Linked DNA regions of Homo sapiens: region 2 is linked to region 1. A link means that fine-mapping ties the variant in region 1 to the expression of a gene that starts in the linked region. Tissue or cell type: monocytes after LPS. Region 1 holds a variant in brackets; the other region holds the start of a gene. All regions are shown on one strand. Distances are between the middles of the regions.

What was found. PIP is the estimated chance that this variant, and not a neighbour inherited with it, causes the effect.
Region 2: it holds the start of KLHL8, and the variant in region 1 is fine-mapped to the expression of KLHL8 in monocytes after LPS (Quach 2016, PIP 0.95).

The regions. Positions count from the first base shown.
Region 1 is chr4:86,785,300-86,793,299 of GRCh38, reverse strand. It overlaps PTPN13 (protein tyrosine phosphatase non-receptor type 13), which reads right to left. Exons shown (of 48, transcript NM_080683.3): 39 at 7,932-8,000; 40 at 7,364-7,452. Among named protein-coding and RNA genes, the nearest start is that of SLC10A6, 60 kb to the left of the region's middle. The variant AG/G (reference allele first, on the strand shown) is at 3,457.
Region 2 is chr4:87,217,245-87,225,390 of GRCh38, reverse strand. It overlaps KLHL8 (kelch like family member 8), which reads left to right and starts at 4,773. Exons shown (of 10, transcript NM_020803.5): 1 at 4,773-4,973. RefSeq lists silencers at 4,554-5,043, 5,384-5,653 and an enhancer at 5,159-5,771.

The DNA.
Region 1 (8,000 bases):
TTCTTCCTGTTGATTTGATACCTTTACCATTATATAGTGGCCTTGTCTTTTTTGATCTTTGTTGGTTTAAAGTCTGTTTTATCAGAGACTAGGATTGCAACCCCTGCTTTTTTTGCTTTCCATTGGCTTGGTAGATCTTCCCCCATCCCTTTATTTTGAGCCTATGCACGTCATTGCACATGAGATGGGTCTCCTGAATACAGCACACCAATGGGTCTTGACTCTTTATCCAATTGCCAGTCTGTGTCTTTTAATTGGGGCATTTAGCCCATACACACTTACGGTTAATATTGTTATGTGTGAATTTGATCTTGTCATTATGATGTTAGCTCGTTATTTTGCCTGTTAATTGATGCAGTTTCTTCACAGCATCGATAGTCTTTACCACTTGGTATGTTTTTGCAGTGGCTGGTACTGGATGTTCCTTTCCATGTTTAGTGCTTCCTTCAGGAGTTCTTGTTAGGCAGGCCTGGTGGTGACAAAATCTGTTAGCATTTGCTTGTCTGCAAAGGATTTTATTTCTCCTTCACTTATGAAGCTTAGTTTGGCTGGATATGAGATTCTGAGTTGAACATTCTTTCCTTTAAGAATGTTGAATATTGGCCTCCACTCTCTTCTGGCTTGTAGGCTTTCTGCTGAGAGATCGCTGTTATTCTGATGGGCTTCCCTTTGTGGGCAACCTGACCTTTCTCTCTGGCTGCACACTTAACATTTTTTCCTTCATTGCACCCTTGGTGAATCTGACAATTATGTGTCTTGGGGTTGCTCTTTTCAAGGAGTATCTTTGTGGTGTTCTCTGTATTTCCTGAATTTGAATGTTGGCCTGCCTTGCTAGGTTAGTGAAGTTCTCCTGGATAATATCCTGAAGAGTGTTTTCTAACTTGGTTCCATTCTGCCTGTCCTTTCCGGTACACCAATCAAATGTAGATTTGGTCTTTTCACACAGTCCCATATTTCTAAGAGCATTTGTTCATTTCTTTTCACTCTTTTTTCTCTAATCTTGTCTTCTTGCTTTATTTCATTAATTTGATCTTCAATCACTGATATCCTTTCTTCTACTTGATCGAATCGGCGATTGAAGCTTGTGCATGTGTCATGAAGTTCTCGTGCTGTGGTTTTCAGCTTCATCAGGTCATTTAAGGTCTTCTCTACACTGTTTATTCTAGTTAGCCATTCATCTAACCTTTTTTTCAAGGTTTTTAGCTTTCTTGCGACTTGTTAGAACATGCTCCTTTTGCCTGGGAAAGTTTGTTATTACCGACCTTCTGAAGTCTATTTCTGTCAACTTGTCAAACTCATCCTCTGTCCAGTTTTGTTCCCTTGCTGGCAAGGAGCTGCGATCCTTTGGAGGAGAAGAGGCACTCTGGTTTTTGGAATTTTCTGCTTTTCTGCTCTGGTTTCTCCCCATCTTTGTGGTTTTATCTACCTTTGGTCTTAGATGTTGGTGACCTACAGATAGGGTTTTGGTGTGGATGTCCTTTTTGTTGATGTTGATGCTATTCCTTTCTGTTTGTTAGTTTCCCTTCTAACAGGCCCCTCAGCTGCAGGTCTGTTGGAGTTTGCTGGAGGTCCACTCCAGACCCTGTTTGCCTGGGTATCACCAGCGGAGGCTGCAGAACAGCAAATATTGCTGCCTGATGCTTCCTCTGGAAGCTTCATCCCAGAGGGGCACCCGCCTGTTTGAGGTGTCTGTCGGCCCCTCCTGGGAGATGTCTCCCAGTCAGGCTACACGGGGATCAGGGACCCACTTGAGGAGGCAGTCTGTCCATTCTCAGAGTTCGAACGCCATGCTGGGAGAACCATTGCTCTCTTCAGAGTTGTCAGACAGGGACATTTAAGTCTGGAGAAGCTGTCTGCTTCCTTTTGTTCTGCTCTGCCCTGCCCCCAGAGGTGGAATCTAGAGAGGCAGTAGGCCTTGCTGAGTTGCGGTGGGCTCTGCCCTGTTCAAGCTTCCCGGCCGCTTTGTTTACACTGTGAGCTACTCAAGCCTCAGCAATGGTGGATGCCCCCCACTGGTCAAGCTGCAGTGTCACAGGTTGATCTCAGACTGCTGCGCTGGCAGTGAGCAAGGCTCCGTGGGCTTGGGACCCGCTGAGCCAGACATGGGACAGTATCTCCTGGTCTGCTGGTTGCTGGGACTGTGGGAAAAGCACAGTGTTTGGTCAGGGGTATACCATTTCTCCAGGTACAGTCTGTCATGGCTTTGCTTGGCTAGGAAAGGGAAATCCCCTGACACCTTGTGCTTCCCGTGTGAGGCGACGCCCCACCCTGCTTCAGCCCACCCTCTGTAGGCTGCACCCACTGTCCAACGAGTCCCATTGAGATGAACCAGGCACCTCAGTTGGAAATGCAGAAATCACCTGTCTTCTGCGTCGATTTCGTTGGGAGTGGCAGACTGGAGCTGTTCCTATTCGGTCATTTTGGAAGTGACCACCCCCAAATTGTATTCTTAAATGGTCGGTAAATTATACAATTGAATCTTTATCAGGACAAATTTTCTTAACAAATAGGAAATTCCCTTGAAGGCCCTGAATTATCTGGCCCCTGTCTACTTTTATAATCTCCCCTTTACCCAGTGGCTTCAAATTCATGGGTCTTTCAGTTCTTCAAAATCACTCATCTCTTCCTACCACAAAGCCCTTCTAAGGGTGAATCCTTACTAAAAAATTCAGCATTGTGTCTTCTCCTCCTGAAGATGTTTTCTATCCACCCAATCTAAAGCAGGTTTCCTTGGTTATTCTTTTTGTGTGTGTGTGTGTGTGGCACTTAAAAACAACAAACAAACTTCACAGACCTTAACACAACTTGTAATTACATATCTATTTGTGTGTTTGATTTTTTCTCCTTTCCTCTCCATCATTAAGCTCTACCAAGGCAGGAATCATGTCGATCTGTTCACCACTGTGTGCCCACACACACTTATGTCTGTGACATAGGTTATTTCATCCATTTAATAAAAATGACACCTGTAATATGACCTTTCAGTTACAGACTTTGTAGAGTTAAAAAGTACCATAATTAAATTACCCTGATAATAATTTCAATTTAGTTGATGTAAATGTAGAAGTTCTACAGTAGAAGAAAAAAGGTTTTAATCCACTGTCAACTAAAAGGAAACTCATCTCTTTCGAGAAGCTGCTCATTTTAGTCTGGATTAAAATTTTTTTCCAACTAAAGTCATTTGGATTTCTTATTCCCCATTACAATCCTGGTCTAAGAATATAGTATGTGTATAATGATTTTAGAAAGTACAAAGCCTTTTATAAGAGTTAAGTGCTATTATAAATATGAAAATTTTAATAACACAATTATTAAATGAAAATGGTGAGGTAAAGCTCAATTAGAAATAAGTTACAGTGGGGCAACCTGCTTGGGTCCCCTTCCACACTGTGTGTGGAAGCTTTGTTCTTTTGCCCTTCACAATAAATCTTGCTGTTACTCAAAAAAAAAAAAAAA[AG/G]CTACAGTGATACCTGTATTAACCAATTACCACTATTTTTGTAAAGTTCACTTGTGTATGGGGGAGGGTTGCGTTAAGAAGATTGGCCTTCAGTTTCTTGTCACTATGGACTGAAGGACCTTTGGAAGAGGAGGCAGCTGTGGTACTGCCTCACTGAATATATTTAAGATTTTTTTTTATCGTGGTCAGCCCCTTTGAAGGTTATTTTACAATCCTAGTGCTCAAGGAATCCAGATCCAGTAACTTGAGAGTAGAGGAGACATCTCCTTGATCTAGGACGAACTACCTAATTTGTAGTGCCAAGAGTCACATGCAAATAAGGTATCTCTTGTTAAAAACTTACTAAGAACTTCAAGTTGGTGATAGCACAGCACTATAGCATATTAGGAGTAGGAGGCTCTTACAAGCACAGGGTTCTGTGTGATTGCACTGGTTGAATGCCCATAAAGCCAGTCCTAAGATCCAACCAGTCAAGCAGGATTATCCTCAGGTGATGGAGAGTCACTAAAAGTTTTTGCCTTGTTTTTGCTTAAGAAATTAAAAACACTACATAAGAAGACAATGTTTGAAGAAATTAAAGCCATTAAAAAATAACCAGAATTAGAAAGCATATTGATCCATTTCAGTGGCAAGAGATGTGGAAAGATCAAATTCCTTGGCATGGCATGTAAGTCACTTCATGAACTAATACCTTGCCTATCTTTTTAGGTTTAGCTTTCAAGACACCCTGTGATACCCTACTCGCAATGACTTAGTGTCCTGAATGTTCCAGGCTCATCTATGCCTTCATTCCTCTGCTAAAGCAGCTCCACGGTATGTATGGAATGCTCTTTCCTAGCTTAACTATCAAATACCTTTAAGATGCTAATTCTTTAGAAAGCTTTAATAACTTTATCCACCTACTCCTGTGTAGCCCCTACCATTTCCCCCCTTCTTTGTAGGTCCCACTGAACTCCATATAAACATTTAACAGAATATGTTTCTATAGCTTTTTAAAAATTATTTACTTATTTACATGTGTACTTCCCTCAAGCTGACTACTAGACTGGACAAGCAAATTTAGGACAGAAACCCTAACACCTCTTCTTACCCTATTATCCCCAGCAAAATTAGTCAGATGAGTTCAATAGCTGAATGGTTTTGAAACTGTAGACAATAATTTATAGTAATGTATACGATTAGCATTCATTCTTTCATTCTTAAATGAGACACAGGCATTGACCTGAAGTACTTCACTAAGAGGTACCAAAGAGTACAATTACAATACTGAATAAGAAATACAATGAATGTATAAATAGCTATCAGAGGTATAATCTTTCTTCTGTAAGAAGATATTCCTATACTTTTGTAATACCAATGGTTAGCATCTTAACTTTTGCCACATGATAAAACTTTCAAAGTTACAGAATATACTGTTAGAACCAATTCAGTAAATAATATACAATTTGTTTAGGGTGATTTCAAGAACTTACAAAAGATTATTGTCAGAAGTTCTAAATAATTTTTAAAACTAGCCAGTTCTAAAATGTAGGTAATATTCTAGAAATACAAGATGAAACAGAAAACTTTTCCAGAATACCAGCTTGGTCTTCTTTTCAGCTAGGGGAGATTAGTCATATTTGCAAATTTTAAATTTGTCTGCTTATGAATATAATTGCCATAGTGATTTAAACGTGTTCCTAGAATTAGATACAAATAAAATTTTTAAATGTTTTAATCTAAGATCCCTGTTACTCCTTTCCTAAATTTGTTCCCTCATTTTCTTTGCTTTGTTTACCATTATTTAAAACAGATTCTAAAGCAAAAGTCCCATTTATTCAGGAAGCACTAATTTATCTAGCCCAAAATGTATTCTCAATGCATGTATTTGCAGGATCTATCTGTACTCCAGTGGCAAGACAATTATATAGTTCCTAATAATTTGTTTCCTCTTATTGATAAGAAATCTAAAATTCATTAACAGATGGCCAATTTAATAAATTATGGTATAACCTTACAATAAAATGATAGGAAGGCTTTAAAAAGTATGAGGCAAATTTATACGTCTCACATGGAAAGAGGGTAATGATTGTTAAGTGAAAACCAAATTCAGAACCATGTGATAAAACGTATATTAAAAAATTATGTATGTATACAAATATTTATGTTTTGATATGCACAGTGGAAAGGTAGAAATCAAAATTTTTAACAATAGCTACCTCAGATGAATAAGATAAATATGTTTTTAAAAAGGGACTTTTTTTTTTTTTTGAGACAGAATCTCGCTCTTGTTGCCCAGGCTGGAGGGCAATGGCGTGATTTCGGCTCACCGCAACCTCCGTCTGCCAGGTTCAAAGGATTCTCCTGCCTCAGCCTCCCGAGTAGCTGGGATTACAGGCATGTACCACCTTGCCCGGCTAATTTTGTATTTTTAGTAGAGACGGGGTTTCTCCATGTTGGCCAGGCTGGTCTTGAACTCCCAACCTCAGGTGATCCGCCTACCTTGGCCTCCCAGAGTGCTGGGATTACAGGCGTGAGCCACCATGCCCGGCTAGGACTTAACAGTTTTGAAGATTCTGTTGGAAACTTTTTTACAATAAGGATGTAATATTTTCATAATGAAAATAATAAAAAAAAGATAACTTGAAAGAAGTTTTCTGCCATAAAACAGTCATAGCTCAGTATAAATGAGAATCTATATTAACAAGCTTTCCTTACTTTTTTAAAAGAAAAAGCATGTGACATGACTTTTTTTTTTTTGAGACTGAGTCTCGCTCCATTGCCCAGGCTGGAGTGCAACGGCATGATCTCCGCTCAATGCAACCTCTGTCTCCTGGGTCAAGTGATTCTCCTGCCTCAGCCTCCCGAGGGGCTGGGAATACAGGTGTGCGCCACCACATCTGGCTAATTTTTTATATTTTTGGCAGAGACAGGGTTTCACCATGTTGGCCAGGCTGGTCTTGAACTCCTGACCTCAAGTGATCTGCCCTCCTCGGCCTTCCAAAAGTGCTGGGATTACCGCCATGAGCCAACGCGCCCGGCCTACATCACATTTCTGAAATGGCAATTAAAGATTTTTATTTTCTTAGTTAAAAGACATTACAACATACATTTTAAGGGGCATTTTAATATTACTATTAAATATTAATAAAAATGTGATAAAGTCATGACTTAAAATGTTCAGAAAATCTTCTCTAAAGAGCCTATTTTTACTGTAATTATTAATATTCTGATTATATGAAAGAGCATCTTAAGAAAAACCACTAGCGAATGCCACATTTTGAGATATCTAATATTTGTATGATTATTCTTGTAGCTTGAGAAATACATACTTATCAGCCGTAAGCTTCCTTGTATATATACACATTATTTGTAAATATTTAATGAACAGTCATGTATGGATGAGATTGTGTGTAAGTATAAGCATGCATGATAACTAGTGTAAGAACATTCAAACCAGCACAGTTTTAATAATTTTGAAGATATGAAGTAGGAAGACTAAGAAGGATAATGAGGAGAATTATCCCAGAATATTAAGCAAGGTCAGATTTGTATACATAGGGTGATGCTGAGCTTGAAGAACCTGAAATATAATTTATCTACTATTTCATGCTTTTCCTTAGCCTAATATCCCAGAAGATCCTAAGTTTTAAGGTTTTAAAGAATAATTTATAAAGTTTAGCATTACATTTTTGAAAACTAATTGTTTTTTTTTCTATTTTTTTTAATTTGAGAAAATTTGTGTAATGATTCTTTCACTAGGATAGGATGACACTTTAATGTAACACATGAAATTAATCTCCGTTTTCCTCCTAAATTTAATTTTTGAGTAAAACAGGAAAGAATCTCTGATTATTTCACCTTCTGGGTTAAACCCATAATTGTAACAAGCTGTCATATCCTAGGTTGTTTAGGTATTATTGTTACCTCAGTAAAATACTCAGGTAAAGGTGAACCATCGCAGTCTGTATCTTCTGTTCTCTCTTCTGATAACTTCCCATTCATCTTTAATGTACCTGAGAGAGGAATATATAGGCCAAGAGGAATTTATAAAACTATTGAGGAAGTAGAAAAGTTTTCATTTGCCTGCAAAAGAAGGCAGTGTATAAACCAATATCCATAAATAGTTTCAATGTTTTAACTAGAAAAGTTAGGAAGAAATGATCAAGTACATTTTGGTATAAAATTTCTGGTTAAAATTATCTACTAAAATTAAAATGAGAATGGCTGGGGGAAAATGTTTGGACTAACCCTACTAGAAGTAAAAGCCATGATATAAATGATACATTTGGAGATCTCACTAATAAGGTAACCCACTTACAAATATGGAAAATAAAAAAAATAGGAGATAACAAATTCTGTTTTGTTTCTGAAATATTACACATGAATGAGGAACAGAAGAAGAACTAATGCATTACATATTTACTCAAAAAATGCTCCCTAGAGACGTTTTTGTACTCCATAGTATACCAATTTATTCATCTGGTTCACGTACCTGGACCACAGGAGTATCCTGCTGCATTATTTTCGTTTAAAAGATTCTGGGCTTCCTCATCCACAACAT
Region 2 (8,146 bases), 430 kb before region 1:
AGTACTATGCTGTTATTTTCTATTTAAGGAGATTTCAGACAAATGAAAGATATAGACAACTTCTTAAAATGCTCACTAAGTGCTACTTTAGGGGCAAAAATAAGTTGTAAGATGAGCATATATAGGAGGCAGTAACCCAAAACTGGAGAGGGGGGACTGTAACCAAGAAAGGTTTCCTAATTAAAAAGTTTTCTAAGTTAATACTAGATGATTAGAAAGAGTTCACCAGGCAAAGGGGTAGAAGGAACAGCAATTACAAAGACCCACAGAAAAATTGGGAACTTTAAATATTTCAGGGATGCTGGGTGCTGTGACTTGAGCCTTGTAATCCCAGCCACTCCGAAGGCTAAGGCGGGAAGCTAAGGCAGGAGGATCCCTCGAGGCCAGGAGTTCAAGACCAGCCGTGGCAACATAGCAAAATCCCCCCATCCCCGCACCCCACCAAACTCCACCCCATCCATCTCTTTAACAAAATAAAAACAAAAACAAAACAACAATATATATCAGAGAAATATATCAGAAAATGGTCAGCAAAGGTTTAGAGATACCTATGTCAGGCTGATTGCATGGTAGTGGATGGAAGAACTGTCATTAATTTATTAAAACAGCACAAGTTGAGCCACCAGCCTAAGGTCAGAAAACATAGCCATCCACATGTGTGTCTTAGGATAAAAGGCGGGAAATGATTGTTGAGGGAAGCTGAAGTGCCACAGTAAAGGCTGGTTTTGTAGGAGGGTGACAGGATAGGAGTCAAAGGATTGGGATGAAATGTAACTGCAAGCCAGTAACCCTGACCTGGACAGGAAGATAGTGGTCTTGCTGGCGGTGTTCAGGCTCTTTAAGTACGTTTCCATAGACAAAGAACCTTAGCAACTCTTCTGGGACCTGCTCTCTGGTTGCAAGCTTTGCCTCCCTAGCAAATGAAGATAAAATAACCTTCTTCATTAATCTTTCCAAATCCCTCGGCAAGCCACATCTGAAATTCTTTCCCTGCTCCCCGACTCCTTTAAGAGAAAGAAAAATTGTCTGGCTCTGTCATCCAGGGAATGAGCCACCATATCCAGCCCACATCTGAAATTCTTTTGATGGTTATAAAGCCTTTTATCCCAGGATTAAAGATAAAGACTTAAAATGCAAATGTTGGCCGGCGCGGTGGCTCATGCTTGTAATCCCAGCACTTTGGGAGGCCGAAACCCAGCTACTCAGGAGGCTGAGGCAGGAGAATCACTTGAACCTGGGAGACGGAGGTTGCAGTAAGCCAAGATCGTGCCATTGCACTCCAGCCTGGGTAACAAGGCGAGACTCCATCTCAAATTTAAAAAAAAAAAATGCAAATGTTGATTGGGGTTAAAATATTGCAATTTTTTTCTGACTAAAGTACAATCATAAAATGAACAAACAGCTATCAGATCCTTTCCAGTTTTAATTTATCGGACTTTGAGGGAAGGGAAGGAATTTCTTAGATCCTTACTTATTATAGGCTAGTCTTGCTTATTCTCAAATGGAGCTAGGGAGGAATGGGTAAAAACTAAGAAGACATTTCGTCCGATTTAGGAAATGTGTGTTTTGTTTTAGTTGAGGTATGTCTTATTTTGTAAGATACTGTATATATTTTTAAGTAATTATTTGAGAGCATTGTTACAGATATATCACTTTTTAGGGAAAGATTTTTTTTGCCCCAGTTTATAGCTATTTGGTTTAAAAATTTCATTTAATTTTCAGAATTTTTGCCAGACTCCTCTGCCCCAATAAAAGGCTCTAGATTAGGTGTATCTTAGGTGCTCCCCAAACCCCTGGCCACCCCATGCATACCTTTTCATTATTCACTGTTTAATTCTCTGTCTCCGAGTCTAGATCCTAAGTCTCCATGAGAGCAGGGACTATTCAATTTTGTCTACTGCGTATTTCCCAGTTCCTAGCTCAGTGTCTGGTGCTCAAAAAATGTTCTTCGATAAATAGATGATAATAATATTGAAATATTGTGTATATTTCTTTGATTTGTTAGTAACTACAAATAGTTTATTGTGTATATGTCAATTAGCAGAAGAAAAAGAGCAGTTGTGCTCTTTTTTATAAGCATTTTTAGGAGTTACTGTGCACCTTATTACAAGAAAAGTGGCCAGGAATGGTGGCTTACACCTGTAATCCCAGCACTTTGGGAGGCCAAGAAAGGCAGATCCCTTGTGACCAGGAGTTTGACAACCAGCCTGGGCAACATGGAGAAACCCCATCTCTACAAAACAAAACAAAACAAAACAAAACAAACAAAAAAATTAGCCAGGTGTGGTGGTGTGGGCCTGTAATTCCAGCTACTCGGGAGGTGGGAGAATCACCTGAGCCGGGGAAATCAAGATTACAGTGAGCCATGATTGTGCTACTCACTGCACTCTAGCCTAGGCAACAGAGTGAGACTCTGTCTCTAAAATAAAATAAATAAAATAAAATAAAAGCTTAGGCTATAAAAAACAAAATTTCTATTAACATGGTCTTACTAAATACATATTGTAGGCCGGGCGTGGTGGCTCATGCCTGTAATCCCAGCACTTTGGGAGGCTGAGGCGAGTGGATCACTTGAGGTCAGGTGTTCGAGACCAGCCTGGCCAACATGGTAAAACCCTGTCTCTACTAAAAATGCAAAAATTAGCCGGGCGTGGTGGCAGACACCTGTAATCCCAACTATTGCAGAGGCTGAGGCAGGAGAATCACTTGAACCTGGGAGGTGGAGGTTGCAGTGAGCTGAGATTGTGCCACTGCACTCCAGCCTGGGCGACAAGAGCAAAACTCCGTCTCAAAAAAATAAAATAAAATAAATAAATAAATAAAATACATATTGTGTTTTATGTTTAATAAAGGGAATACAGGGAAGCTTTCCCTTTTCCCTTGGAAGGTTCACTGAAAAATCAACTGTCAAATGGCAGACTAATAGGAAAAAAGACATACAAAATTTATTTTAATGTGCATAACACAGGGAGATTTCAGGAGAATGATTACCCAATGACTCAATGGGGTAGAGACGTTTATATACTCTTCTTTATGGGGGAAAGGGAGATTGGGGAAATGTGGCAACTTAAGGTATAGTAAAGGACTTTTAGGGGAAAATGGGGAACATACAATGGCCTGGGAAAAAGTGTGTTGAGCCCATACAGCAGACAATAGTTTGTGACAAAAGTCTGTCCAAGAGTGTTGACAGACTTCAGTCTTTCTTCCTCCAATATGAGTTAAGTAAATGAAAAATCAGGTAAGGCAAATATGTTCCTCTTTGGCAGGTCTAGTTTCTAGGCAGATAAGGGAAATTCAGAGAACGACATCATTTGGTGCTTTGGGAGAGACAAAGAATTGAGAGGCAGGAGGGGTAATGGGGAAGGTAAGAGACACCTTGAAGCTGCTTCCTCAGTTCAGCGCGGCAAAGCACCATATTTTGGGGTATCGATTTCTGAGTCCCAACAATTTTTACATCACGTTCCAGACACATTTTATGACTTTTCTTCACTGCATACTTCTTTAAAACTCATCTTACTCTATTTTTCTAAAGGTATTTGCATTAAATGTGCAAAATACTAATGCTCTAAAGAGGAATATTTTGAAATATTAAGAATTATTTATATTTCAATGTAAAAAATGTGATTTTTTTTCTAGAAATAAAATTTCAAATTCAAATAGTTGCTTTGGGGTTTTTATAGAAGATGCATATATATATACAGATATATATATGTTCATTTCTATTAAAATCAATGTGCTAATGTTCATATGTGTTAATATTAATAAAGGTCCTAGGATTAAATTTATTCTGAAATAGACTCCTAGGATTGTGAAAGTTTGAGGTTAGTCTGGCAAAAGACACATTTAGGGGAATATCTTTCTTTAAAAAAAATTTTGTTTTTTTGCTGTCTCTTGATCTCCCGCCTCACACATTCCACTTTATTGACATTATAGAAAAATTAATTCATTTCAACAGCACTTTTACTTGCATTGCTTTTTTTTTTTTTTTTTTTTTTTTTAGACGGAGTCTTGCTCTGTCGCCAGGCTGGAGTGCAATGGCACAATCTCAGCTCACTGCAACCTCCGACTCCCGGGTTCAAGCAATTCTCCTGCCTCAGCCTTGCGAATAGCTGGGATTGGTGGCACGCACAACCACGCCCAGCTAATTTTTGTATTTTTAGTACAGACGGAGTTTCACCATGTTGGCCAGGATGGTCTCGACTCCTGACCTCGTGATGCGCCCGCCTCAGCCTCCCAAAGTGCTGGGATTACAGGCGTGAGCCACCGCGCATGGCCACTTGCACTGCTTTTTAGCAGCGAGCTCTCAGGTCAATCAACTGCTTCCTTAGGTTTACAAACTGTGGGTGTGTATTTATAAACACAGTTGTTTTGTATATCCTTTGTAGAGCACGTGGTGAAAGTGACACAGGAATAAATGCAAACCTTTTTTTCCCCTTCTTTTTTCAAAGACATAAATCCCAGGAACACTCACAACCGCAGAAGGGGATTTGATGGACATACAAAGAAACTAAATTTTGTACCGCCGCAGAAGTGAAGCATGGATAAGCTCAAAGGTATTTAGGCAGTGTTTTATTTCAAGATTTGTTATGGGGACCTCCGCCACGCCCTGGTCCGCCTTCACCAGGCCGGGCAACACTGCCCAGTCCCTGAGACCCGGCCGCCCACTAGGGAGCCGCGGGGGCGAGGCCGTGGGGGTGGCCTCGGGGAGGAGGTCCCGAGAACCACACTTCCCAGAGTGCCGTGCGCAGCCCCGCCCAGCCCGCCCCGCCCCCAGAGGCCGCGGCTCGCGGGGGCTGAGGCGAGAGGACGCCAAGCGCCCGCCGGGGCTCCGCGGGGCCGCGCAGGAGAGCGCGCGTCCGCCGGGTGCTCGCGCGGGGTTGGTGAGGTTCCGCTGAGGGCGGCCGGGGCTCTGGGAGCGTGGTAACGTGGCTGCAACCTTAGCGACATCAGGAAGAACAGGGTCGAGGATCGAGGTAACGGGACGCTCGTCTCCCCTCAGTCCCCTCGTCTCCCCTCAGTCCCCTCTTCCTTTGTGCGGTGCCGTCCGCTCGCGCCGAGCCCTCCCTCACCCCAGCCCCCAAGTCGCAACACCGTCCCGTCTTGGGTCTCCGGTGTGCGGAGGAAATTCGAGCCCTCGTGCACCAACCGAAACTCCACAGCTGAGAGGGCTTGGGGCCCGGACAGCAGGAGATCCAGCCCCTGAGCAACCTTCCACGGCTTTTGTCGCCCCCATTGGCGGGAGGAGCAGGGTTATGCTCCCGGCTCCCGTAGGGGAGCTCCAGCCTCTGGCTCTGTCAGCCTCCCCGGCAGCTCCTTGACTCCTTCCTCCCAGTCTTTCGAAGAGGGGCCCAGGCAGGTGCTTCGCGGGGTCCAGGAAGAGGGCAGGCGCGGTGCGGCTGGCGCGGGTTCGGGGCCCCGGGAGGGCGGCCGGACGCCCCCTGGAGCCGCGGCCTGCGGGGGCGGGGCGAGTGGGCCACCTCCGGGCCACGCCGCGCGGGGACGAGGCGAGGAAGGCACTGCCTGTCCCCACTCGGGGGGCTTGCTGGCCGCCCTGGAGGTGCCTTCCCGGGAGCGGCGGTGTAGACCTTGTGGAGAGTGCCTCCTGATGTGGAACCAGGAACCGCAGCCTCTTTCTAGACGCTCAGCCGCCCGGTGGAGTTGTTACCGCCACGATGACAGCTCTTTACGCCTTCCACTCCGTGCTGGGTTCAGTTGGCTTGCTGTTTTCTTCAGAGAGAGCGATTTGGCTACATAGCTTGAATTTTCTACGTGTCTCGTGCTTTACTGGACTTGCACTGTTTTTCCCTCTTGGCAGTGTTTAATCGGGTGACTTTTCATAGAAAACGTTCAGTATTTTCATCTGTGTTAATGGCATAACTTTCTTCTTGACTCTGCCCTAAGCTAATGTTACCAGTTTAGAGGGATACTTTGGGAAAAGGTCCTTAGAACCTGGGTTGACATAAGTATTTTATCTGCTGGTTGCACGTTTTTTCCTTTGCATTGTTTTTCTCCTATACAAGATGGTAATTGTTGGACTCTTGGTGTTCTTTATTCTCTCTCTAGAAGGAAATCCTCTTCGCGCATCTTTCTCGTGTTCTGGCCCTGCGGTACTCTTGGGTACGCAGAGGACTGCTGCTAACAGTGCTGGCGCCTGGAACGCTGCTTGGAGATGGCGGTGGCATTAAGCTGCTGCTTTTCCTCAGACTTCCTCCTGGCACCCTTCTTAATTTGTCAAACTGACCCAGTTCAAACTTCAAACTTTTAGTCACTTTATTTATTTCGTCACTTTTTAAAAAAATTGCTTTCAAGATACCAAAATTGCGTAAGCCTAAATATAAAAAGAGGTGTCTCAGGGGCCGGGTGCAGTGGCTCACGCCTGTAATCCCAGCACTTTGGGAGATTGAGGCGGGGGGATCACTTGAGGTCAGGATTTTCGAGACCAGTCTGGCCAACATGGTGAAACCCCATCTCTACTAAAAATAACAAAAATTAGCTGAGCGTGGTGGCACATGCCTGTAGTCTCAGCTACTCGAGAGGCTAAGACAGGAGAATGGCTTGAACCCGGGAGGCGGAGGTTGCAGTGAACCGAGATCATGCCACTGCGCTCCAGCCTGGGCGACAGAGTGAGACTCCATCTCAAAAAAAGAAAAAAAAAGTCTAAGGATACTCTATTCAACTACATATGAGCACTTAGCTTCATCATTTTAATTTTTAAAGCTGCCAATTCTTTTAGCATTTGATAAGATTACTGATAATTGGTTAAGATGATATATTCTGTAATAATTGCACATTTTTTGACAAGAAACTCAGTTCACATTCAGTGAGGGTTATTTTTTAAAAACAGTATTTCTTCATTCATTAAGAAGAAAGTTAGGGCCGGGCGCGGTGGCTCACGCCTGTAATCCCAACACTTTGGGAGGCCGAGGCGGGCGGATCAAGAGGTCAGGAGATCAAGACCATCCTGGCCAACATGGTGAAACCCCATCTCTACTAAAAATACAAAAAAATTAGCTGGGCATGGTGGCGCATGCCTGTAGTCCCAGAGACACGAGAATCACTTGAACCTGGGAGGTGGAAGTGAGCTGAGATCACGCAGCTGCACTCCAGCCTGGCAATAGAACGAGACTCCATCTAAAAAAAAAAAAAAAGTTGGGTAAATTTTGATCCCACCTGCTATTTTGAAAAATGAATTTTCTTTTTTAGAGCAGTTGTAAGTTCACAACAAAACTGAGTGGAAGGTATAGAGATTTCCCATGTATCGCCTACCCCTACAGAGCCAAAATCTCTCATCAGAGTGGTACGTATATTACAATTGATGAACCTACATTGACATGTTATCACATCCACAGTTAGGATTCATTCTTGGTGTTAAACATTCTGTGGGTTTGGACAAATAACCCTTTTGTTTTTATCAAGAACTTTTGAGAGTTGTAGAGAACTGAAATGGATATTGTCATTTTAAAAAGATTAAAGAGACTATTGCAGACATCTTAAACATTAATTTCAGATAGTTTTTGTGTTTTATAAATTGAATGTTTAAATTTTTGGTTACTTATATTGGAATTCCCAAGAGTCACATTTATTTTTGTATATTAAGAACTAAAGGGCCCCACATGGTAGCTCACACCTGTAACTGCAATTTGGGAGGTCAAGGCAGGAGGATTGCTTGAGCCCAGGAGTTTGAGACCATCCTGGGCAACAAAGTGAGACCTTTCTCTATATTCCAAAAAAAAAAAAAAAAAAGAGGCCAGGCTCGGTGGCTCATGCTTGTAATCCTAGCACTTTCAGAAGCCAAAGCAGGCCAATTGCTTGATCCCAGGAGTTCCAGACCAGCCTGAACAACACGGCGAAACCCTGTGTCTACAAAAAAACAAACAAACGAACAAAAATTACCCAGATGTGGTGGTGTGCACCTGTGGTCCCAGCTACTCGGGAGACTGAGGTGGGAGGATCACCTGAGTCCAGGGAGGTCAAGGCTGCAGTGAGCCATGATTGCATCACTGCACTCCAGCCTGGGTGACAGAGTGAGACCCTATTTCCCCCCACCCCCAAAAAAAGCAAGAGATGAGGGAGGATAAATGTTTCATAAAATAACAAAATGTTGTTTTCAGTCGCTAAAATTCACTTGACTATGTCTTTTTTTTTT